3 linked regions of the Homo sapiens genome follow. The protein of the gene in region 3 interacts with the protein of the main gene of each other region in a pairwise test. Each region holds a gene or a part of one and is shown on either strand. Other genes may lie near its edges.

Region 1 (7,532 bases), on a different chromosome or scaffold from region 3:
CAGCTCATTTTTGTGTTTTTAGTAGAGATGGAGTTTCACCATATTGGCCAGGCTGGTCTCGAACTCCTGACCTCAGGTGATCCGCCCGCCTCCGCCTTCCAAAGTGCTGGGAGTATAGGCGTGAGCCACCGTGCCTGGCCCCTAGATTCCATTTGTATCTCTGTTCTTAAGCAAAACTTTTTTCTCCTTAGACTTCAGATTTTCCTGTCCTTGATCCCAGCTGGACTGCTCAAGAAGAAATGGCCCTTTTAGAAGCTGTGATGGACTGTGGCTTTGGAAATTGGTAAGAGCTTGGTGTTAAGAGTTGTCCTGCCCTAGTGGACTCAGAGAAGAAGCTGTTGTTGAAGAGTAAAGGAAGGAACCTCAGGAAGAGAAAGTATGTGTTGCTTTCCTATCAACCCATGATTTAGAGGCAAGTTAGTCCCCTCTGTACATTATTTTTCCAGTGTCGAAATGTGTCACGAGGATATGGGATGTTTAGCGGTCCATGACTGAGCAGCTTTAAAAGGCCACTTTGGATGTATCAACAGTGGGAAGATTGATTATTATTCCTTTCTGAATAGTAGGGAAGTTTAGTTTCGTTAGTTATTACTCCCTTCTGATTTTATGAATTTTTGTTAGTTGTAGATGCCCTAGTCATTTAAGTGAATCAGACTTTAGCTAGATGGTCATACGTAAGATTCAAGTTTCACAGACTTCCTGATAGCATTCTCTGTTTTTAGCTTTCAAACACCTACCTGCCTTAGTCCAAAACCGGCGGAATTGAATAGCACTTATTGCTGTTGACCTAGGGGGCAGCACCACTTAATACTACCACTTTCGTTTTTATCTTTTGGGAACACTTTCATATGGATGCTTTTATTTTATGAACTAGATAGCAGAGGCATTATTGAATATATTTTGTTCACAAATTATCTGAAGCCTAGGGGGTTGAAATGATTTCTTGTGATTACATAGCTTATTACTGAAGGACTCTTAATTAGGTCCTCCCTGTCCTGACTTACTAGTGTATATAACCTTTCTTGGTGTTCATCAGAATAAACTCTGCTGCCTGCCTCCCTTATGTCCAGGGACCTGAAGAAGGAGACCTGAATTTAGTTCACATTTTGCTTGTATTCATTCATTCAGTATTTATTAAGCATCATAAAATACTGTGTACAATGAGAAATACCAAAGGAGGTAGAAAAGTAATCACTTGTGAGGAGTTTGCTAGTCATCTTTGGCCTAGTTTTTCATTTTTTGCTTACCATTCTCTCTAAAATAGTCTAAACCTCTCTGTCCTCCTTCCCTCTTAACAAAGAACATAAAAAAGACATAGCTTCTCTATCCGCTGTGGGTAAGGCACTAAGTTTGGCAGTGAGTGGGCTAGAGCTAAGAATTATGAGATGCATCCTGTCTTCAGAAAGCTTATAGTTTAGCAGGGGACTTAAAAATACAAGTGATTGAAGTACACAAAACAGCACAGTGATGCCTTAGGGGAGGTCAAGTGAAATGCTGTGAAAAAGAGACCTTGAGGAAAGGACTTCCACCTGTACCTCTCCATTACCTTGGCTCAAGTCAGGGATTTTTTTTTATTGAGACAGTCTCACTTTATCACCCAGGCTGAAATGCAGTGGTGTGATCACAGTCACTATAACCCCGAACTCCTGGGCTCAAGGGATCTTCCCTCCTCAGACTCCCAAGTAGTTGGAACAACAGGTGTGCGCCACCATACTCAGCTAATTTTTAAATTTTATTATTATTATTATTATTTGGAAACAGGATCTTGCTCTGTCGCCCAGGGTGGAGTACAGGGGCATGAGCTTGACTCATTTCAGCTTCAACCTTCCAGGCTCAAGTGATCCTCCCAGCTCAGGCTCCCGAGTAGCTGGGACTACCGGCGTGTGCAACCACCCCTGGCTAATCTTTGTATTTTTTGTTGAGATAGGATTTTACTGTGTTGCCCAGGCTGGTCTCGAACTCCTGAGTTCAAGCCATCCTCCCACCTTGGCCTCCCAAAGTGCTGGAATAACAGATGTGCCCCACCATGCCTGGCCAGATTCTTAAGCAAGTTTCTTAATTATTTTGGGCCTCATTTTTCCTTCTTTGAAATTGAGATAGTAACAATATCCATACCACAAATTTGATACTAGGTTTAACTTAAATTCTGTTGTGAATGTTTCTAGCTCAGTGTCTGGCATCTCATAGCAGCTCTAGTAAAGAAATGTTTATGTTAAGTGTTTGGTAAACCGTAAAATATTAGGCAAAATAAAACTATATTTCTGTATATTTTGAATGTTCTGAAGTCACTTCTTATTATTTACAGCAATTATTTCTGTAGGGCCTAGCTCACAGGAAAATTTACAAATTTTCCAGTCATCTTTATTTATTTATTTATTTATTTATTTATTTATTTATTATTTTTTTTTTTTTTTGAGATGGAGTTTCGCTCTTGTTGCCCAGACTGGAGTGCAATGGCGTGATCTCTGCTCACTGCAACCTTTGCCTCCTGGGTTCAAGCAATTCTCCTGCCTCAGCCTCCCAAGTAGCTGGGATTACAGGCATGCATGCACCACCACGCCTGGCTAATTTTGTATTTTTAGTAGAGACAGGGTTTCTCCATGTTGATCAGGCTGGTCTCTAACTCCCAACCTCAGGTGATCCACCTACCTCCCAAAGTGCTGGGATTACAGGTGTGAGCCACTGCGCCTGGCCTCAGTCATCTTTCTTTAAGTGGAAAAGAAAGGACTTTTTAGTCATTATTTCTGTGTTTTAGACTAGCAAGATATGGAACACCAGATTACACCAATCTAGGCTTATATTTATGTCATTTTTCTGCTGATATCTTTTTGATATCAATTTGGAAATATGAGAGTATATTATATGGATGTGACTTAAAATATGAAAAGAGCAAATGATGCTTTTAGTATTATGTGTAAATACAAGTACCACTTCTCTCTTTTTCCCACAATCCTCTAGGCAGGATGTAGCCAATCAAATGTGCACCAAGACCAAGGAGGAGTGTGAGAAGCACTATATGAAGCATTTCATCAATAACCCTCTGTTTGCATCTACCCTGCTGAACCTGAAACAAGCAGAGGAAGCAAAAACTGCTGACACAGCCATTCCATTTCACTGTAAGTGCCTCCCTATCTTGATAAGATATACTTAGCTCATCCTTGGGCCCTGTTTCAGTAGCAGATAAAGAGTGATTTGATGACTTGGACAGCTAATGATATCACGGAAGATAGGAGGAGTTAGTATGGCAGCTATTGAGAGTCAGGATCGACCCAGCATGGTGGCTTGTGCCTGTAATCCCAGCACCTTGGGAGGCTGAGGCGGGTAAATCACTTGAGGCCAGGAGTTCAAGACCAGCCTGGCCAACATGGCGAAACCCTGTCTCAACTAAAAGTATAAAGATTAGCTGGACGTGGTGGCAGACACCTGTAATCCCAGCTACTGGGGAGGCCAAGGCAGGAGAATCACTTGAACCGGGTAGGCGGAGATTGCAGTGAGCCAAGATCACATCACTGCACTCCAACCTGGGTGACAGAGTGAGACTTCATCTCTTAAAAAAAAAAAAAAAAAGAGTCAGGATTATAATGTGGCAAAGAAGGAACATACTCTAAGGGTCAGAGTTCTATACAGGACATCAAGGTGCTTGAAGCCAATGTGTAGTTCCACCTACCTTGAGTCCTTTGAACATATCAGTTAACTTAGTGCTTTCCTTTGTAAAATAAGATGTCAAAAAGGGAAAACCTTTTCTATGCTATTATGAGTGCAAGTTTTTTTTCAATCCCTTTGGAGAGCTTATGATTATACATATGAGTTGCTTAGAGAATACAGTATTTGACTCATTATTATTAATTGCCTTGGTGTCAAGCCCAAGAATCAGTTTGTTATTTTTGTTCGCTTGGTTGTGTCAGTGATGGCGAACTTTTTAATCTCATGTGCGTGTGGGACCAGTGGGTCTCTTAATAAAATATAACCAAAAACATGATGAATTATAAATGACCATCTTTCCTGAATGACTCTCAGGGTACAAGTAATGAGATATGAATGTTTTCACTTCCCTTTTCTCTTTCCTCATACTCTCTAGAAACAGTTTTATAGCTGACTAACTTAAAGGCTGGTAATACCTCCTTTTTTTTTTTTTTTGGAGACAGAGTCTCGCTGTGTCTCCCAGGCTGGAGTGCAGTGGCACAACCTCGGCTTACTGCAACCTCCACCTCCAGGGTTCAAACGATTCTCGTGCCTCAGCCTCCTGAGTAGCTGGTACCACAGGTGCATGCCACCACACCTGGCTAATTTTTTGTATTTTTAGTAGAGAAAAGGTTTTGCTGTGTTGGCGAGGCTGGTCTCGAACTCCTGACCTTATGATCTGCCCGCCTCGGCCTCCCAAAGTGTTGGGATTACAGGTGTGAGCCACCGTGCCTGGTTGATACCTCCTATTTGGATAGCACTTTGGTGTTAGCACTTTGTTCTCAAATCCATTAGACCATTTGTTTCCTAACAGCAACCCAGTGAGATAGGCAGAGCAAGTGCTTTTGTTTTACATTCGAGAAGACCGATGCAGACAGGTTAGTTTGTGCAGGGTCATGGGACTAGTGTGTGTTGGAGCTAGGACTTAATTTCAGCTAACTTCCAATTCCAGTGTTTGTTTTTTTCCCGTCTTTTTTTTTTTTTTTTTTTTTTGCCTCTCAGTTGGATGAGTTTTGTAAATTGAAGTTCATCCTAAGGGATAAGGGAGCCGAAGCCAACGGTAAATATTTAGGTTCTGTAATATTAAAGGAAAAAAGTCATGATTTCCTTTCATTTTAGGAAAGCAGAAATCAGAAGAAATTTCCCCATATTTACTTAAAGGATTGCCTGAGTCTTGGTTTTTCTTTTTAAAAAACCTGTTTTCATAATACTTTATCTTTTTCACATTTCCTTTTATAAAAACCATTTTAAATTTTATTTATTCTTGGACTATTATGTCATTTTTTTCATGCCAATATTGTATTAGTTAACTCAGAAACCTTCTAAATTCTTCCAGCTACAGATGACCCTCCCCGACCTACCTTTGACTCCTTGCTTTCTCGGGACATGGCCGGGTACATGCCAGCTCGAGCAGATTTCATTGAGGTAGGATAAATGTGTTTTTAGCACAAAGTAGGAAAAATTCATTTTTGTTTCTCATGAGCCTTCTGTCTCACCCATAGATTCCATACCACTAAAAGGAGATTTTTCAAGGCACTATAATTTGTAGGACCTTTAGGCAGCCACATTTTCTTAGGTTTGAGTGCCTTTTCTCATTTGTAAACATTTTCACATATGGAACAGTAAAAATTCTTTAAACAAACAACCTATTTCTGGCCAGGCTCAGTGGCTTACACCTGTAATCCCAGCACTTTGGGAGCTGAGAATGGAGGATCGCTTGAGTCCAGGTGTTCGAGACTAGCCTGGGCAACGTAGTGAGACCCTGTCTCTACAAAAAATAAAAAATTAGCTGGGTGTGGTGGTGCATGCCTGTAGTCCCAACTACTTGGCAGGCTGATATGGGAGGATCACTTGAGCCTGGGAGGTTAAGGCTGTAGCGAGTGGTGATCATTCCACTAAACTGCACCCTAGACAACAGAGTAAGACCCTGTCTCCAAAAAACAAAAAAACCCCAGCAAACCCACCTCTTAAGTTGCATCAGTGCTGGCTTCCACTTCCTTAGGTATGAAATTCCTATAGTCTGGTTCTTTTTTTTTTTTTTTGAGACAGAGTTTTTGCTCTTGTTGCCCAGGCTGGAGTGCAATGGCATGGTCTTGGCCCATTGCAACCTCCACTTCCTGGGTTCAAGCGATTCTCCTGTCTCAGCCTCCCAAGTAGCTGAGACTACAGGTTCCTGCCACCATGCCTGGCTAATTTTTGTATTTTTAGTAGAGATAGGGTTTCACCATGTTGGCCAGGCTGGTCTCAAACTCCTGACCTCAGGCAATCCACCAGCCTCGGCCTCCCAAAGTGCTAGGATTACAGGCGTGAGCCACTGCACCTGGCTTGTAGTCTGGTTCTTATTGTACATCTAGGGGCTTTCAAGATTGTACTGTATCAGGGGTTGACAAACTTATTCTATTAAAGGCCAGATAGTAAATATTTTAGGTTTAGTATGCTATAAAGTTTCTATTGTAACTATACTTTGTCATTATTGTGCTAAAGCAGCATGGGATAATATAAGAATAAATGAATACGCCTGTGTTCCAGTAAAACTTTATGTACAAAAACAGACAGTAGGCTGAATAGTAGTTTACTGATTCCTGTACTATATCCACAAGTATATAAAGAATGATGAATGTGTATAAAAACTATATGTTCCTTGCTCAGCTATGGAATTAAAAGACATGTGAATGTAGCCACAAGTCTCTTGATTTATCATCTAATTCACAACTTGAAAGATAGTTTGGCCAAATGCGGTAGCTTACACCTGTAAATCCCAGCACTTTGGGAGGCTGAGGCAGGCGGATTGCTTGAGCTCAGGAGTTTGAGACCAGCCTGGGCAACATGGCAAAACGCTGTTTCTTCAACAACAACAACAAAAAAAACCCGAAACCAAAAATTAACTTGAGTGTGATGGCACATGCCTGTAGACCCAGCTGCTTGAGAGGCTGAGGCAAGAGGATCACTTGAGCCTGGGGGTTCGAGGCTGCAGTGAGCCAAGATCACACCACTGCACTCCAGCCTGAGTGACAGAGTAAGACCCTGTTTCCAAAAAAAAAAAAAAAAGAATGAATTGACTTTATTTATTTATTTCAGAGACAGGCTCTTGCTCTGTTTCCCAGGCAGTCTTGAACTCCTGGTCTCAAGTGATTTTTCCACCTAAATCTCCTGAGTAGCTGGGATTATAGGTGCATGCTACTGTGCCCAGCTCAGACTAATTTTAGTTTTTAGAGCAGTATGTTTAGCTTCATTCCTAAACTCATAACTATTCCAATTTTTTGTTGTCACTACTGCTTGTAAGCCTCTTAGATTTTTCCCATGACTTCCTATTACCTGTGCCAGTATTGTGGCCTTTTGCCATATTTAGACTTTTTAAACAACTGTTTGCTTGTGTTTTTTCTGTTTACTTCTAAAGCATGGCTGCTGTAAAGACACTAATCAAAGCCGATGGGTTTGGGGTGGGGATTTTTTTGTTCCCCTAAACAGGAATTTGACAATTATGCAGAATGGGACTTGAGAGACATTGATTTTGTTGAAGATGACTCGGACATTTTACATGGTAACAGTTTATTTTGTCAAATGTTTATCGAGCGCCAACTGTGTGATGACACTGTCTTGGGTGCTAGGAATTGAAGGATGAATAGAACATGTCCCCTGCCCTTATAGAATTCAGAAATCTAGTGGTTAAGTTGCTGAACTTACTGTGTTGTTGGATTTTGACCACAGTGAATAAGACTTGTGATGAGGGTAAAAATATTGATTATATAATAGTAGTAGGAAATATCTGTTGGACTGTGTGATTTTACTTTTATCTGAGGTAAATCTACACTAAGGTAATTGGTTAAATGGCCCTCACTTGCATTCTTAGA
Region 2 (8,519 bases), on a different chromosome or scaffold from region 3:
CTCTGAGGTTTTCGCCTGATTTTTGAGAATCCTGCTCTGCTATGGATGGGGTAGCCAGCAGAACACAGAACAACCAAGGAGCGTTTTAAATACAAGACTATTAGAGTGGCAAATCATTGTCCTTTCTGTGACCAGCTTCTGGGGCTCTGGAATTACATGTTAAACAACAGGATCAGATGGGAGCACTTTGCAGCTAAGAGACCAATACCAGAAAAATACCCCTTTACCCCTTCAACAGCGTGCTCCTGCCTATTTACAAGAACATTTAGCATCATTTCCTTCTCAAATGGGCCATCCTGTACTCTGGAGCTAGAACAGAGTACGAGGAGAACACTGACATTCAGTGCCTACCAGTTTCTCTCCTACGGAGCTGCAGCAAGCTGGAGCTCCCATGAGCTGCACTGTTGACAGCTCTTAGTCAGGGATCACACCCTTGCCTTTACGAGCTATTTCTGTCATTTTATATAAAAGCACAAAGACACAGTGGTCAGCACGACAAGACTACAGCCTGGGGGAAGCGTAATCACTGTCAGAGGACATCAAATCCAACACACTGGTGGGATGGCAGGAAAGCAGACTCGAAAGTAGTTCAGAGTAAATGAGTCTCCTTGTTTGCTTCTTACTCATAACATTAGGCCTAAGCTGCTTTGCTGAAACACTTAGCTCTGCGCTTTCCAAGCGATAGAAATTATACTTACTCCAATGTGTGAGATGAAAACCCACTGCACACTGAGCTGAGCGACATTTGATGTGCAGTAATGCCACTTCAGGTGGTTCATCACATTGCTTTATTCATAAGGCTGGGGGACAGGGTGGAACCACACGAATTTAACATCTTGCTGTGCCTGAAATGTTCATTAAGTGTTCTTATCCGCAGTCACCTGCCCACCCCACAGAACCACTCTCCACTAATTTAGAGACTATAATCTGTGCACATTTAAATTACGATGAACAGGAACATTTCCACTGGAAAAACCATCACACATCTTTGATTTGCACTGCCAATTAGGTCTTCAGAAAAGGAAAAAAAAAAAAACCCTGATCATCTTACATATAGTAATTTGCCTTAATTGGTGCATAATGGATCGGATATAATTTGTGGGTAACCCCTACATGATAAATAGTTTATTTAACATTTTAGAACTACCAAAAATTAGCCTCATTGTGTGGCAGTAAACGCTCACTTCCAACTACACATTCTGGGACTTCTGAGTTTCCTAAGCATGAATTATGAATATCAGTAGTGGAAGTGCAAAGAACTCTCCAGCTTAACAACAGGAGTGACACATTCCAGAAACATTTTCTGATTACATTCACAAGGAGCTCCGGAGTGATAAATTCCAGATACATTTTCTGACTAAACTCACAAGGAGCTCAAATCTCCATCCAGAGGGTTTGTTTTTTGTTTTTAGTCCTGTAGCAACAGAAACTCCTAGAAGGTTAGGACGCCAGCCGGAAGTGGTGGCTCACGCCTGTAATCCCAGCACTTTGGGAGGCCGAGGCAGGTGGATCACCTGAGGTCAGCAGTTCAAGACCAGACTGGACAACATTGTGAAACCCTGTCTCTACTAAAAAAAAAAAAAAAATACAAAAAATTAGACAGGCGTGGTGGCGGGCGCCTGTAATCCCAGCTACTCGGGACGCTGAGGCAGGAAAATTGCTTGAACCCGGGAGGCGAAGGTTGCAGTGAGCCGAGGTCGCGCCATTACACTCCACCCCGGACAAGAGCGAAACTCCGTCTCCAAAAAAAAAAAAAAAAAAAAAAGGATGCTAATACACGGTAAAAGCCAGTGGCAAAAAATAAAAAATCGAACCCTGTCTCATTCCGTAGGCTTTACTGTTTCCCTTGCTTTTAATAGTTTATCTCACAGGAGGCATTTTAAAAATATTCTCAGAAACATCAACAACAGATTTTTCTCAAGCGACCATTTTCAGGAAGGCTTCAGAAATTACTAAAAGGCCAAAGCTACCGTTAGTGGCTCAGTCTTTGCCGCCAGACTCGGGCAGGTGACAGCGGTTTGGGCTCGGGCGCCGGGCACTCTGCGCCTTCCAACGCTGGCGGCCCCGCCTCCCCTTCTCCCGGGCCAGGCACGCAGGTGGAGGAAAGTAAACACCAGTCGGAAGCAAGGTGGAAGCAGTGAGTCTCGCGACTCTCAATAAAACAAGTGGAAAAAAAAAAAAAAACAATCCTCGCACAAAGCATCTCCGTGCTCCCACAAGCAGAGGCGTGGCTGCTTGTTTCCCTTTTTAAAGGTTGTATTTTTAGTTCTTATGAAAAATGTTTTTATTGCTTACTTCTAAGTAAACATGTATCTCCATTACGATAACGTAGAGAAAAGCTCTTTTAAGAAGTAAAAAGAGAAAACTGAAGTCACGTTCACATTCCCACTACTCACTGAAACGTTTGGGGGAACTTACTCAAGTGTTTGCTAATGAGTTTTAAAGACGAGTTAGGCCCTTAACGCGTAATTGGGGTCGTGCTGTGCATATGATTTGGGATCTTGCAGCTTGTTTAACTCGGCCCAATGACGTTACCATTTCCCCCAAATGGTTACTAATTCCTTGAAAACGTTTACAAAAGTTCTAGAATAAACACTAAAGTTATTATTTTTAAACTCCATTATCCAAGTTGGACTGGTCTGGCGATCGACTGTTAAAAAAAAAAAATTACAACTTTCTTAAGCTTCCTGATCTCTGTGCCAATTCCCGGAGAAAGTGTGGGGAGTGCACAAAAAAAGCCCCTCCCCCGTCTCACGAGGGCTGCAAACGCAGGCGCTGCGCCCCGCTAGCTCCCCGCCTGCACCCCCGGCGGCCACCCGAGACTGAGCAGAGCGCCAGGCTGAGCGCGGTTGTGTGCTGGGGCGACCGGCCTCTGTGGTCCGCGTAGCACAAACGTGACCCACTGCGCACACCTGCAGGGCGCGCCCACTCCGGCACTCAACCGGCTGGGCGCGCCAGATCCCCAGTGCCGCAGCCAAGGGCCACGTTTCCAGCCCAAGGCCAGCAGGACCGGGTGGCAAAGGGAAGTCAAACTGTGGGTGCGTCCGGACGGCGGCGGGCGGCCGGACCCTCACCTGGTAGCGAGTCGCCAACTCCATTCTTCCTAACCGGGCTCCAGTCTCCTCCCAGCACGCGGCCACGGGAGCCCGGACTCACCACGGCCCGGCGCACCAAGAACGCCCCGCGCCCGAGCAGCTAGCGCGCTCCGCCCGGAGCACAGGCGGGCCCCGGGAGGGGCGCACTTGACGCCCTGGACAGGGGGAGCGCGTTGCGCTGCCCCCTCGGTGCCGCCTCACTGGGCCTCGTGGCTCCGATCACGTTCCAACTTCGCGGCCACTGACCTTGTCTTCGCAGGCGGCGCGAGAGGGGGCTGCAGTTGGGCGCGGCAAGAGCAATTACCAGTGTTAGGGCGCCGGGCTCCCCCCTGCAGCAGAGGGAGGGAGTGGAGCCGTCCGGCGGGGTTTAGCGCGGGAGAAATGAGGGGGCTGTCCCGGCGCAGCCTCCAGCTGGCACGCGCGCTGGATACTTGGCAGGGTTTATTCCAGGTCATGCCCTGGGGCGCGAGCTTCTGCTGCAACCCCTGTCTCTGATCCAGGCAAATATTGTAGGGCGGCTTTGGGGCTTGTTTTGTTTTGTTGTTGTAACGGGGCAGGGTTCTCTTTGGGAAGATTCTGTCTCCCAAAACATTTGCTACAGGGTTCACTTTGCAGAACAGGCAACCCAGGTTTCTTTACCAAGGCCCAGGTGGACAGATGCAAACCCGCCTGAAACTTTAGACGGCCATTACACAGTAGGCCTCCACACCCACCAGACAAAGAGTTTGTAGAGGTCAGGAATGCTGACTAATTTAACAGAATTGACCCCGGCATCTACTAAGCATCAGGCACTGGGCTAGTCCTAGGAACAGAAGGGTGAACAAAAACAGGCCCCTGCTCTGTTGGAGTTTACAGCCTGAGAGCCAGTTACCAACCTAATTGCATTATTCTAAATAAATACAATAATGATGCAAATAAGTGTAATAACGATGTAAATTTTATAAATTAGATTTATAATTAATATTAATTTGATACCACTATCAATGACAAATGTAATGATGATGCAAATAAATGTAAATTTGGAGCGATGATGCCATGAGAAAAAAGGCAAGTGGTATTAATGGTGGTGTGAAATAGGAAGACAATCTGATAGAGGTCAGGGAATACTTCTTAGAGTTCAGATATGAAGAGTGAGGAATTAAGTTTGTGGAAATTGTGGGAGAGTTGAAGTAGAGAGTGGGGAGAATGGTAAATGAAGTTGTCCTGAAATCACAGCAGGTTTGCTGGACAGTGTTGCACACCTATTTAGAACCGTGGTCATAGGTTTACAGTAGAGCATCCTGTACGCATAGGACCTTCTGCAGCCCCTCTCAGCTGCTTAGGATCTGACGTTCATCTTTTCTTTATTGAACGAGTGAATGAAATTTGCCAAACATTTACTCAAGCTTGAAGAGAAAACATGGAAAAGGTTTCCTTCCTTCCTTTGGTTAGTTCAGCAAACAACATGTGTTATGTGCTTTCATGTTCCAGCCCTCAGTGTTCTCACTTCCTGGTGGTAGTAAAACCAATACAACATTGTGTGACTTAAAATGTTTTGTTTTTATTGGATAATGTTATTTATTCATTATGGCCACTTCATTTTTATTATGCTTTAGAGTTTTCCTTCACATGCAGTATCTCCTTGAATCCTCTCAATATCCTTCCAGATCCTTATTGTCCACATTTTTAAAATAAGGAAACAGAATCTAAGAAAATACATTAAGAGATCCCTGCCACCCTGCCACTAAGTGACAGCAGCAGACTGCCAAACTGAAAACCATTCCTTATGCCTCCAGATCCAACATTCTTTCCATTTTTCTGTATTTTTTCCCTTTGGCTGCCAGGAAGCTTAGAGTGAAAATTAATTCAATCAGAGCTCTTCTTCCTCTTTTTTTTTTTTTAGATAGTTGCTTCCTCATGAACTGCTGATCTTGTTTGCACTTCTTTTCATTGTAGGTTAAATCAAATCAATTTTGGAAAAGGGAGCACAAATTTGAAGCAGGTCAGATTTTGCAAAACACTTGAAGCAGCCTAGACTAGCTACTTCTGTATCAGGAAACCTGTAAGCTGTTGAACCTTTCTGTTTAGAAATTTGCCATAACTAACCCTAAGTCTTCAGATGACAACCCCTAAATTTTCTTCCTGTGCTTAGCAAAGCCTGTACACGTTTGATGGTATTTAGTAATTGATTATATAGTGGTGTGTTTTGTTTTGTTTTGTTTTGTTTTGTTTTGGTCAGGCTTTGGGAAAATCTCTAAGGAACCAGAGGATTTAAACATGGCACTGCAGTAATACTTTCTAATAATTATTACTGATAGGGTTCACGGGATGTGAGCACTGGGTTTCATCATGGCACTGCAAGAATGAGTGTCCCTTCCAGATGCAACAGTATACATATTGCAACACAGAAAAAGAAGACATAATGTTTGCAACTTCTTTTAAGAAGTCTGTCTAGAAATCCATGCTTGATTGCTTTTTAAATGTTTCCATGAGAGAGTAAAAACTTGGTCCCCAGTACCTTGAACAAGGTAAGAAATTTGTGATTAGAAGCCAAAGGAGTTAATAATGCCACACTAAAATATGCTGCTCTGGCATATTCACTATTTTTAGTTAAAAGCACTTAAAAAAAAAAAAAGCAGGTAGGAGAAGATCACTCTGAACTTAATGTTGTTTCTTAAAAGCAGGAGATAAAATTCCCCTATGAAAGCTGTCCTCCCTACACAAGAAGGAAAGCCACATTCTTATCAAAGACAGGAAATTGAAGCTGAGGGAAATCTGTACAAACAAACCTTGTTAAACTAACCCTTATCTTCTCAGTCACTTCTCCACCCAATTAACTACACTAGCCCATGCCCCTTTGCCTCATCGCATTTTCAGTTTTACTACTCTGTGCAATTCACTATATAAATGTCCAACTCAAACTTCATCCTGGGGTCTTCATTTCCTTAAAAAGGCACCCATGCCACATAAAACTTCGATTAGACAAATCTATATGCTTTTCTCTTGTTAATCTATTTTATGTCAGTTTAATCCTCAGACCCAGCCAGGACCCAAAAGGATGGAGATGAAGTTTTACTCCCCTACAAAGCCATTATTGAACCTCATTAAATGATGTGAGAGAGCTGTAATTGGATGTCAACCCTGGCCCACGATTTTTGCTTTGTAAAAGGAGCCCAAACATCTCTCCTCTATCTGAAGTAGTATCTCTGCCGTCCCCACAGAGCTTAGTTGTGGGCAAACTCCCTAGTCCTCCCCACATAACAGAAAATCGTGCTGGTTTGGTGCTCTGGACAACTCACCAGAGAATCTGCCTTCTGCAGAGAGCTGGAAGCAGCATGAGTCTATAGAAACTGAGAGGTAATTTCATTAGGTCTGCCTCCCCTGCTTGCTTTTGGTCATTTGCCTCTTGGTGTTGTTTCCTTTTCCCACGAAGTTGAAGGCTGCAGTAGCTGAACACCGCACCACTGAACACTGAGACTTAACTTCACTGGCTACTTTATAGATAACGTTCATAGGTCACCGTGGTAACTGTTGCTTCCATTTTTTTTTTTTCTCAGAAACTTAGGCCAGCTTCTGTCCAGTTCAAACTGGTTGAGGCCACTGACTCTTCAAGTGCCTGAGAGGTGGCCTTTTGATGTCAGAGGGTCAAAAACTCCACCCTGAGATCATGCTAACACTGCCATTTTTCTGTACATATGTCCTATATAATGCCATGAACTCTGGCTACATTTGTGCAGAATGAGCCTGTTACTTCGTTTTTTTCCCAGTGCCGATTACATTTCCCCATAACTCAGACCACCCCATTTCCCTAACCCATAAATATCCCTAAGCCTTATCTTCAGGGAGGCGTACTTCAGAGCTATTCTCCCACCTCCTCACTCCATGCCCTTGTGAATAAATCTTTTTTTTCTTTTGCAAAACCCATGTCACACTAATTGATTTACTGTTCAGGGCAGAACAGACTAGGACCTAGCTGGTAACAGTATCTGAGTACCACTTGGCATTGTATGTGGTCGTGAATAAATAAAGTGACCGTTAAACAGGAAAACATCACTGGTTGTTCTCTAGCTCTTGGTCTCTTGAAACTTCCATCTCATTGTGATCAGATAACACCTACCCTAGAATGGGGAGACCTCCCTAAATTTGAAACATTCAGATATAAAATTTCCAAGTTGCTACAGAATCAAAGATCTAGAACTGAGTCTTTTGTAAAATCATCATCTAACACTGACTGGGTGCGTTTCTGGAACGTTTTTCTTTATTATTATTACAACCCGGTATTCCATCTTCCTGACTTGGTATGTCAAGATGATGTTGTCACAACACTGTGATGAAAATCACCCTAATGGCTTATGACAAAATAACCTGGACAATCAAAAATCAGATCTGTCCATATATCAGATGCAGAAAAATACACATCATGATGAAACTTTAATGCCTGTGGTCTTTCAAAAAGTCAATAGTAATAGTGATATCAAGAATAGCAGCTAATTTAAAGAGTACTCACTATGCTCTAAGCCCTGTGCTGAATTAACCTTTGAATGTGTTCCCTCCTTGAATCCTTCAGCTGAGAGTTCTACATCTTTTCAAAACTAGTGCTGTAAAAGTAAGTGAAACAATATTTTCAAAGCATTTGGGATTTCTTAGAGATGCTATGTAAACTCCAAATACGATTAACGCAACCCATATTACATAGGTTTTTGTAATAGATGGTGCATTATTTATCATTTAGTATGTGAACATAAAATATTATTTTGACTAGGCACTGACAACAAATGAGCGAAAATAACATCTTATTCAATAATTCTTACCTTTCTATGAATTTAGGTCTTATAAAAGAAAATTTTTAATTTCCAATTAGTGGTATCAACAAAAGTACTCTGGTACGTAGTTTTTAAAGAACCACACTTTTTTTCATAATCATTTAGGCAGCATACTTAAAAATAATCTATAAAATGTCAATATACAGAGCTCAGAATAAATGTATCTATAAAAATAACTTTTACTTCTTAAATAACAAAAAGTCATAAAATATTTCATTAGTTCAATAGATAAATGCAGGATATTTTTAAAAGCAGTTTTTAATTTCTATTTTGTCAAGGCTAAAATAACCAACCATACAGTATTTCAGAGATGAAAGTCAAAGTATCAATATTTGTTATAATATTTGGAAAACTTTATTGCTTCAGGTATGGTAAGTAATCTCTATTTGCTAGCCCTGATTCAGTATTTGACAGGCAATAATAGAAAATCTTAGGTTATAAAATGGAAAATTTGGGATCAGAAATAGAGTAATACTATATTCTTTTTGTTTTTTTTCTTTTGAGACGGAGTCTTCCTCTGTTACCCAGGCTGGAATGCAATGGCGCGATCTTGGCTCACTGCAGCCTCTGCCTCCCACATTCAAGCGATTGTGCTGGCTCAGCCTCCCGAATAGCAGGGATT
Region 3 (7,493 bases):
GTGACAAACACATTTGCCACACGAAGGGTACAGCCTTACCACACCTGCTATGCTGTTGCACTCAACTGCCCACTCTCATGCTCACCTCGCCATCACACCTCCTACAACTGTTGGGCCTGGGGCAAGGGCAGGGACCTGTCACAGGGTAAGGCTAATCTGAGCCTTGACAACTGGGTTTGGGCAGGCTCCTGCCCAGGCCTGTGCCCAGAGACAGCTGCAGGGGCCTTGATGGCTGAGGAAAGGGTCGAGGGACCGTGCTGGAGACCCACCAGTGTGAGGCCACCTACGTCTTGTACACATCCTCCCTGGGCAACTTCCCCTCAGCAAAGTCCAGGGACTGGAGAGTCCTGCTCGAGGCAGCTGGATTCAAGGGAGCTAGACCTAGGAGGCAAGGCCCCGGCTGGGCTTGGGCTGCTGTCCACAAGGGACGGGACTTTCCACCCCCATGTAGGAGCGTCTCTAGATTCACATACAAACGTTAGAAAAAATACCCAGCATAAAAAATAGCCTTTATTTATCTGTGACAACACCTGGTAATAGCTAGGCCAGGATTCATGGGCCCCCATCAGCTTGACCCCTGCCCAGGAGGTTTCCACAGTGCAGGGCAAGAGACCTTGACCTTGAGCACCTGTTAGTGACAGTGGCTGCTAGGAGTGGTGGGTCAAGGAGCCCTTCTCCTGCAAACTCATGCCCGGTCCTACTTTTGAGGAGGTCACCTCTGGACACAGTGAGGCGGGAGATGAAGAGGCAACTGGAGAGAGCTCAGGGAGAAGGTAGCAGGAAGAGCGGGGGTAGGGGGAGGAAAGTGGAGGTGTGACAGGGCCCCTGAGGTGGCCCTGGCTGCAGGCCACCTCCACCACAATCCCTGGCGTGGGCAGGGTGAGGTGCAGGCCCTGCCAGGGCTGGGCCCTCTGGCTGGAGCTCAGGGAAACAGGTGGGTTTTGTAATTTGGGATCTGAGTCAGGTGCCTCCTCCCTGGAGTGGAGTGAGGGGCTGGGGACATTGGGCTTCTCCGTGGGTGTCACCTTGAGTTTGAATCTGGTGGCCACCTGGGCACTAGACATGGAGGGGGAGCCTCCTCTGTCCTTGCGTTTTCTCTGAAGCATCTTGGGGCTGGAGACTGTGGGGCGGGGGGAAGCATAGGGCTGCCCGCCATTGGTGGGTTTAGCTGGCTCAGAGCCCAGAGGCGGCAGATCTGAGGTGGGCTCCAAGCTGGTGGGGAACAGAGGACGGCCGTCGCGGCAGTGGGCGCCACGGAGCTTATCCACAGCCTGGCTGACCACGCTTTGCAGGGCAGGGAAGAGGCGGTGGTCAGCCAGGAAGTTCAGCGTGCGATGGGGCTCACGGAGCGGACAGTAGCCAGGCAGGTCGAGGGACTCCAGCTGGCTCAGTAATGACTTGATCTCCTTATTGAACTCTCGCTTGCGGAAGATTGGCTCCTGTTCTCCAGGCCTCGGCTCTGATGCTTCAGGCACGCCAGAGCTTGAGCCCAGCAGCCCTGAGAACCAGGACAAGGGCTGCTCCTGTGTCCACTGAAAGCTGGTCTGGCTACCCAGCGAATCCCACAGCAGGGAGTCCCTCTGGGAGCAGGACTGACTGAGGCCTTTCTGCAGAAAGAGGGTGACTCTGTGAAGTGTTCAGGAGCAGCCAAGCCAGGGCTGACCCTAGCCCTGGGCTCTCCATGGGAGTCCACCCCACCCAGCCATGGCCCTGGCTCTCACCCCTTCCCTCTCCAGCTGTAGCAGCCGCTTGAGGTTCTTCTCCAGCAGGAGTTTGTCCCTCACAGGTGGCAATGAGCCTTGGGCACCTAGGTCACTGTCCCGGCTGTGGGAGCCCAGACAGCCGGCCATGAGGCTGCTATGGCAGTTGGACATGGAGCTGGAGCTGGATGGGTAGTTGTTGGGGTGTCCAGTGCAGAGGGTCGGCCGTACACGGTGCCGGTGTACGGTGCTGAGGCTGGGCCGGGCATGTGCCCGCCGTCCACCACTTGGCACCTCCACTGGGTCCTGCACCTCCACAAGCGGCACCCCAGCCTCCGTCTTCATGGCAGCCATGCGCTCAGTCGCCTTCTCCACCACTGTCTCCAGGCTGTCCAGGACCTGGCTCTCAGTTAGGAAATCCAGAAAGTGGCCAAAGGGCTGAGGGTGCCTCTTGTTTCGGCGTTGGCCCTGGAGTGCTGAGCTGCCACATGTGGATGGTGGGTGTGGCACACGGCCCGGCTTGCAGGCTGGCCGCATTTCTGGGACCAGTGGCTTCTTGGGCAGCTGCACCTGAGCAGACAGGTATGTCACAGGGGGCAGGGGTGCCCTACAGGTGAAGGGTTCCCTGGGGTAACACTAGGACCTGGGTGGGAGTGAGTAGTGGAAGGAGCTGCATTTTGGAGTCTGGAAGCCCTGGGTTTGGACCCTGGCTCTGCCACCTACAGCCTGATGCCAGTGTGCAAGATGGCCCCTCTTGAGGTCCAATGTCCTCATCTGCAAAGTGGAGGTCTATTCAGGGTCACCCCGAAGCTTTCCTAACACCTACATTTCACACACACAAGTCCTGGCTAAGGAGTCTGCAAGCCTGCTTCTGCCCTGACACGTGGCAGGATGAGCAATCATGAATCTCTCGGAGTCTCCCTCCAGCTCCTCATCTGTCCATGCAGCAGGCCATCCCTGTATCCATGGCAGGGCTGCAAACAACATCTGAGGTCTTGAGTGCAGACAACACCTGAGGTCTTGAGCCCTGTGCTACCCGGGCCTGTTTCTCCAACTTGAGCCATAGGCACCTAGTCAACTCCATGCTCCCACTCTAGGGTCCCAGTCCACCCAAGCACCTTCTGGGTCGCTGGAAGTCAGGAGGAAACAAGGAATGAAATTGAGTGTGACAGGGGCAAGCAGTGGGGGACATAGGAGAAGTCAAGGCAATAAGGACTTCACTAAGAGGCCCAGAGAAGTCAATAGACAATGAGAAATGGGGGTTGTGGTCTTGGGTGCCAGGGTTGGTGGGGAACATGTTGTGGCCTCAAGGGTCGGCGCCCTGCTGGGCACACTTACCCGTGCACTGCACATGGAGTGGCTGGCCTCGTCATCGGCCAGGTAACCCGAGTGGTGGCGGCACCTGGCCATGTGGTCACCTGGCAGGTGACCGGGCCTGCTGCCCACCTCTCTCTTCAGCTGCGCATTCCTCTCTGCGTGGGGTGGGGAGACAACCTGAGGGTCTCCAATAGGTCCACGCATCTGTGGCCCTGGAGTCTGCGGGTCCCTCGCTCCCCGCACCCCGCCTCCTTCATGCATCCAGCCCTTCCTCTGCTCCATGGCCCCCATGCGTCTGCAGGCAGGCAGTTTCCAGAGTCATCGGGGTGGAATCGCTGAGGACAATCCTGTCTCCGATCATCTTTGGATCTGCGTGTGCTCGACCCGCCCTCCTCCCAAACCCTGGGCAACCTGGCTTTCACCCCAGCCCAGAATCAACAGACTCACCAGAAACACCGCCTTGCTCCGCACAGGCCAGTACAGTCTGCGCCCTCACTGGAGCAGCTGCACAGTGCGAGGAAGTCGGCTGGCGGCCTCCACTTGCTTATTTGCATACCACATCCTCATTGGTTCTTACCGAGGAGCTCGTCCACTTCCCTCTCCGACACAATGGTTGGGGGCGGGGCCCACATTGGCCCCACCTCCAATTCTCTGGGCTCTGCCCTCCCACACTCGCCTGGGAGCCGCAGGCTGAGGATGCTGGTGCCCACGCTCCCCGCTGCCGGGAGGACCCCCCACCCACCACCGAAGCTGGGGCTAGGCTCTTTGATCTGCTCCTGCCCCGAGGGGAGCCTAAAAGCCAAAGCCACGTCTTCCACCGGTGGCACAAGCACCTTCCTCGTGTCCTCCTTGGTTGCTGCGCAGCCCTGGGCCTCCTGCTCCTGTTCGTTTCCAGGGGCCTCTGCCCTTCCCGCGGTGTGCACAGCCCCAGGTTCTGCCTTGAGACCTCTCCCCTCTGCAGTGGAAAGAGTGCCGGCTCTAAGTCACAGACCTAGCTTCAGTTCCTGGCTCTGCTCTTTCCTGCCAATGTGACTCAACCTCTCAGCATTAGTCCCACACTGTAAATGGGCTTGAGTGTTCTTCCAATATGGGAGTATGGGATTCAATAAAATCTCCCTACAGCACACCCAGTAACCCAGTGGAGCCTTGTGTATTCTTTAATTAATTAATTTATTTATTTGGAGACGGGAGTCTCGCTCAGTCGCCCAGGCTGGAGTGCAGTGGCGCAATCTCGGCTGACTGCAAGCTCCGCCTCCCGTGTTCACGCCATTCTCCTGCCTCAGCCTCCCGAGCAGCTGGGATTACAGGGGCCCGCCACCACGCCCGGCTAATTTTTTTGTAGTTTTAGTAGAGATGGGGTTTCACCGTGTTAGCTAGGATGGTCTCGATTCCCTGATCTTGTGATCCGCCTGCCTTGGCCTCCCAAAGTGCTGGGATTACAGACCTGAGCCACCGCGCCCAGCGGAGCCTTGTATATTCTTACCTCCTCTCCCTCCCTCCTTTTCCCCTTTGCTCAGTAATACCCCACCATGGTGTCACTTCTTCCAAAAACCTTTTACTGTGAATTCTGCCACGCCCTACGCAATTCACAGTAAACCCCATTCCAGACTCTACCATACCATGTTGCTACTTATTTTTCTATCAGATGGTGCTTCTTTGGGGCCAGAACAGAGGCAAGTCACCCTTAATCTCTAATACTTTCAGTGTCTGGCACCAAGTAGGTGCTCAATAAATGTCAGTCTCCTCCTTCCCACCTGCAGACCCTCGGGACCTCTGACCTTTCCAAGATCAGCTTCCAGTGGAGAACGGTGGTTGGTTGAGGTCTGACAATTCACCAGTCACTATAAACACATCAGTCCTTATGCCAAGAGCATGGCTGAAGGACTCTATGAGGCTTTCAATCCTCACATGCCTCACGAAATATTGTTCCTCTCAAGCTCTGCTCTGTCCTCTCAGCTCTGGCTACCCACTAGGTCAGGGACAGAGAGGACATAGCAGGCCTGGGTGCTGGCCCCGAGGTGTGAGGTTCAGTCTTAGCTCCACTACTCCTGGCAGGACCACACTTTCGCTCTCTGAACCCCAGTTTCCTCATCTGTGAAACAGGAATGACATTACCAATTTCATAGCCCGGACACAAATACCACACTTTCCATGGGAAAAATCAAGACTGTCACATTGCAATGGAAACTGTGGCTGCCAACCATAATGACTATTTATACAGTCATGGGTAAGGAAAGCTTTTCTGGACCAAAGAGAAAACAGTGAAGTTATGAATGTAAAAGCTGTAGCCTGGCAGAGAGCTCAAGATGGAAACTGGAGATAATGTTTTCTCAAATGAAGCCTTAGTGTATATGCTTTCTTTCATTTTCTTAGTGTCTAGAGCTCAAGAAAAAAAAAAAATCAACAAATCAAGAAAATGCCTGCTCTTAGAAAAATCTGCAAAAGATCAATAGGCAATTTGAAAAAGAATAAAAATAGCTAATAATATGAAAATTTTCATTCGCACTGCTAAGAAACTACTAGAATGTGATAACATTGATATAATCATCTTTATGTTCTCAAAACAACACACAAAAAAGTTGGGTTGGGGAGAAAGGGAGTTGGGTGTGTTTATTTGCTTAGAGAAAACACTGGAAGGACACAACCCAGAAAGTTTACAATGGCAATCTCTGGGAAGGGTAGGAGATTCTTTTTTTTTTTTTTTTTTTTTTTTGAGACGGAGTCTCGCTCTATCGCCCAGGCTAGAGTGCAGTGGTGCGATCTCGGCTCACCACAACCTCCGCCTCCCGGGTTCAAGCCACGCTCCTGCCTCAGCCTCCCGAGTAGCTGGGATTACAGGCGCGTGCCACCACTCCCGGCTAATTTTTGTATTTTTAATAGAGACGGGGTTTCCCCATGTTGGCCAGGCTGGCCTTGAACTCCTGACCTCGTGATCCACCCGCCTCGGCCTCCCAAAGTGTTGGGATTACAGGCGTGAGCCACTGCGCCCGGCTTCCTTTTGATATTTTACATATTAAATATCACTTTTGCAGTCAAGGAAAGTTCCGCATTGCAATGAATCCATCACTGGTCTGGTTAGCGCGGGAGCAGTTGCCGGGTCCTTGCAGGGGCACGCCGGACCGCTAGGTGGCGAGAACAAAGGCGAAGTGCAGCCGCACCTGGGCGTGTGCGTCGGGGCGGGGCCCGGGCAGCGTCCGGGGGCGGGGCCTGGGCTGTCCGGCCCACTCCCCTGGGAGCGCGAGCGGTGGACCCAGGCGGCCATGTCCCGCCCTCGCATGCGCCTGGTGGTCACCGCGGACGACTTTGGTTACTGCCCGCGACGCGATGAGGGTATCGTGGAGGCCTTTCTGGCCGGGGCTGTGACCAGCGTGTCCCTGCTGGTCAACGGTGCGGCCACGGAGAGCGCGGCGGAGCTGGCCCGCAGGTGAGGGGAGGGCCTCTAGCAGGGCGGCGATCGGCTTGGGGCGCGCGGCTCCGCGGCCGCTAGTGCTCCAGCTCGCGCTCCGCCCTCAGGCACAGCATCCCCACGGGCCTCCACGCCAACCTGTCCGAGGGCCGCCCCGTGGGTCCGGCCCGCCGTGGCGCCTCATCGCTGCTCGGCCCGGAAGGCTTCTTCCTTGGCAAGATGGGATTCCGGGAGGCGGTGGCGGCCGGAGACGTGGATTTGCCTCAGGTGCGGAGCCGCAGCTACAGGAGGATGCTCGCGAGGACCCCCAGAGCTCCGCCCGGAGGGTACTGTGAGGCCGTTAGGAGCTGGCGGTGGATGACTTCCGCATTCAAACACTGGAGCCATCACACGGAAGCACGAGGAGGGTATCCTCGGCAGCTACTCCCGGTCGCTCAAGGTGTCTCTCGCTCGCCCTCTAGGTGCGGGAGGAGCTCGAGGCCCAACTAAGCTGCTTCCGGGAGCTGCTGGGCAGGGCCCCCACGCACGCGGACGGGCACCAGCACGTGCACGTGCTCCCAGGTGCGTGGTTAGTGATCCCAGTTTGGAGGGCGTTACTCCCAGGCGGGGCTGGGGGAGTAGGGGAAGTTCGATGCCCCCAGGTGAAAGGACGTGCTCCTCCCTGACCCGCTCCGCCCGCAGGCGTGTGCCAGGTGTTCGCCGAGGCGCTGCAGGCCTATGGGGTGCGCTTTACGCGACTGCCGCTGGAGCGCGGTGTGGGTGGCTGCACTTGGCTGGAGGCCCCCGCGCGTGCCTTCGCCTGCGCCGTGGAGCGCGACGCCCGGGCCGCCGTGGGCCCCTTCTCCCGCCACGGCCTGCGGTGAGGCTCCCCGCCCCGTCTCCTACCATAGCTGCCTCTGTCCCTCCGCACTGGCTGTTCACCTGGCTAGCTGTGTCCGTTTCTCAACCCGGAAGCGAGTCTGGCGTCGACCGCTGCCGCCACCCCAGTTACCCCCTCCCACCCCGCCGTCCCTTCCCTAGCCTACCTAGCCCTTGGCCATGGCCCGGCCTGGTCCCACCTCTGATGTCCC

What was found. The genes of interacting proteins can lie anywhere in the genome.
Region 1: the proteins of CCDC116 (region 3) and TADA2A interact in binary tests that used the Homo sapiens proteins (3 or more experiments, as listed by UniProt).
Region 2: the proteins of CCDC116 (region 3) and CDCA7L interact in binary tests that used the Homo sapiens proteins (3 or more experiments, as listed by UniProt).

Annotation. Positions count from the first base shown.
Region 1 is NC_000017.11:37,437,547-37,445,078, forward strand, and holds part of TADA2A (transcriptional adapter 2-alpha), read left to right. Parts: intron 1-191; coding exon 192-283; exon of another isoform or gene 284-412; intron 413-2,958; coding exon 2,959-3,116; intron 3,117-5,017; coding exon 5,018-5,106; intron 5,107-7,149; coding exon 7,150-7,222; intron 7,223-7,532. UniProt on the Homo sapiens protein: Component of the ATAC complex, a complex with histone acetyltransferase activity on histones H3 and H4. Required for the function of some acidic activation domains, which activate transcription from a distant site. Binds double-stranded DNA.
Region 2 is NC_000007.14:21,942,707-21,951,225, forward strand, and holds the start of CDCA7L (cell division cycle-associated 7-like protein), read right to left. Parts: upstream 3,194-8,519; 5' UTR 3,099-3,193; coding exon 3,075-3,098; intron 1-3,074. UniProt on the Homo sapiens protein: Plays a role in transcriptional regulation as a repressor that inhibits monoamine oxidase A (MAOA) activity and gene expression by binding to the promoter.
Region 3 is NC_000022.11:21,628,799-21,636,291, reverse strand, and holds the start of CCDC116 (coiled-coil domain-containing protein 116), read right to left. Parts: upstream 3,533-7,493; 5' UTR 3,465-3,532; intron 3,313-3,464; exon of another isoform or gene 3,309-3,312; coding exon of another isoform or gene 3,111-3,308; coding exon 3,039-3,110; intron 2,271-3,038; coding exon 1,722-2,270; intron 1,608-1,721; coding exon 1,026-1,607; coding exon of another isoform or gene 648-1,025; exon of another isoform or gene 489-647; intron 1-488. Other genes in the region: YDJC (carbohydrate deacetylase), read left to right, coding at 6,278-6,441, 6,531-6,690, 6,885-6,984, 7,105-7,282.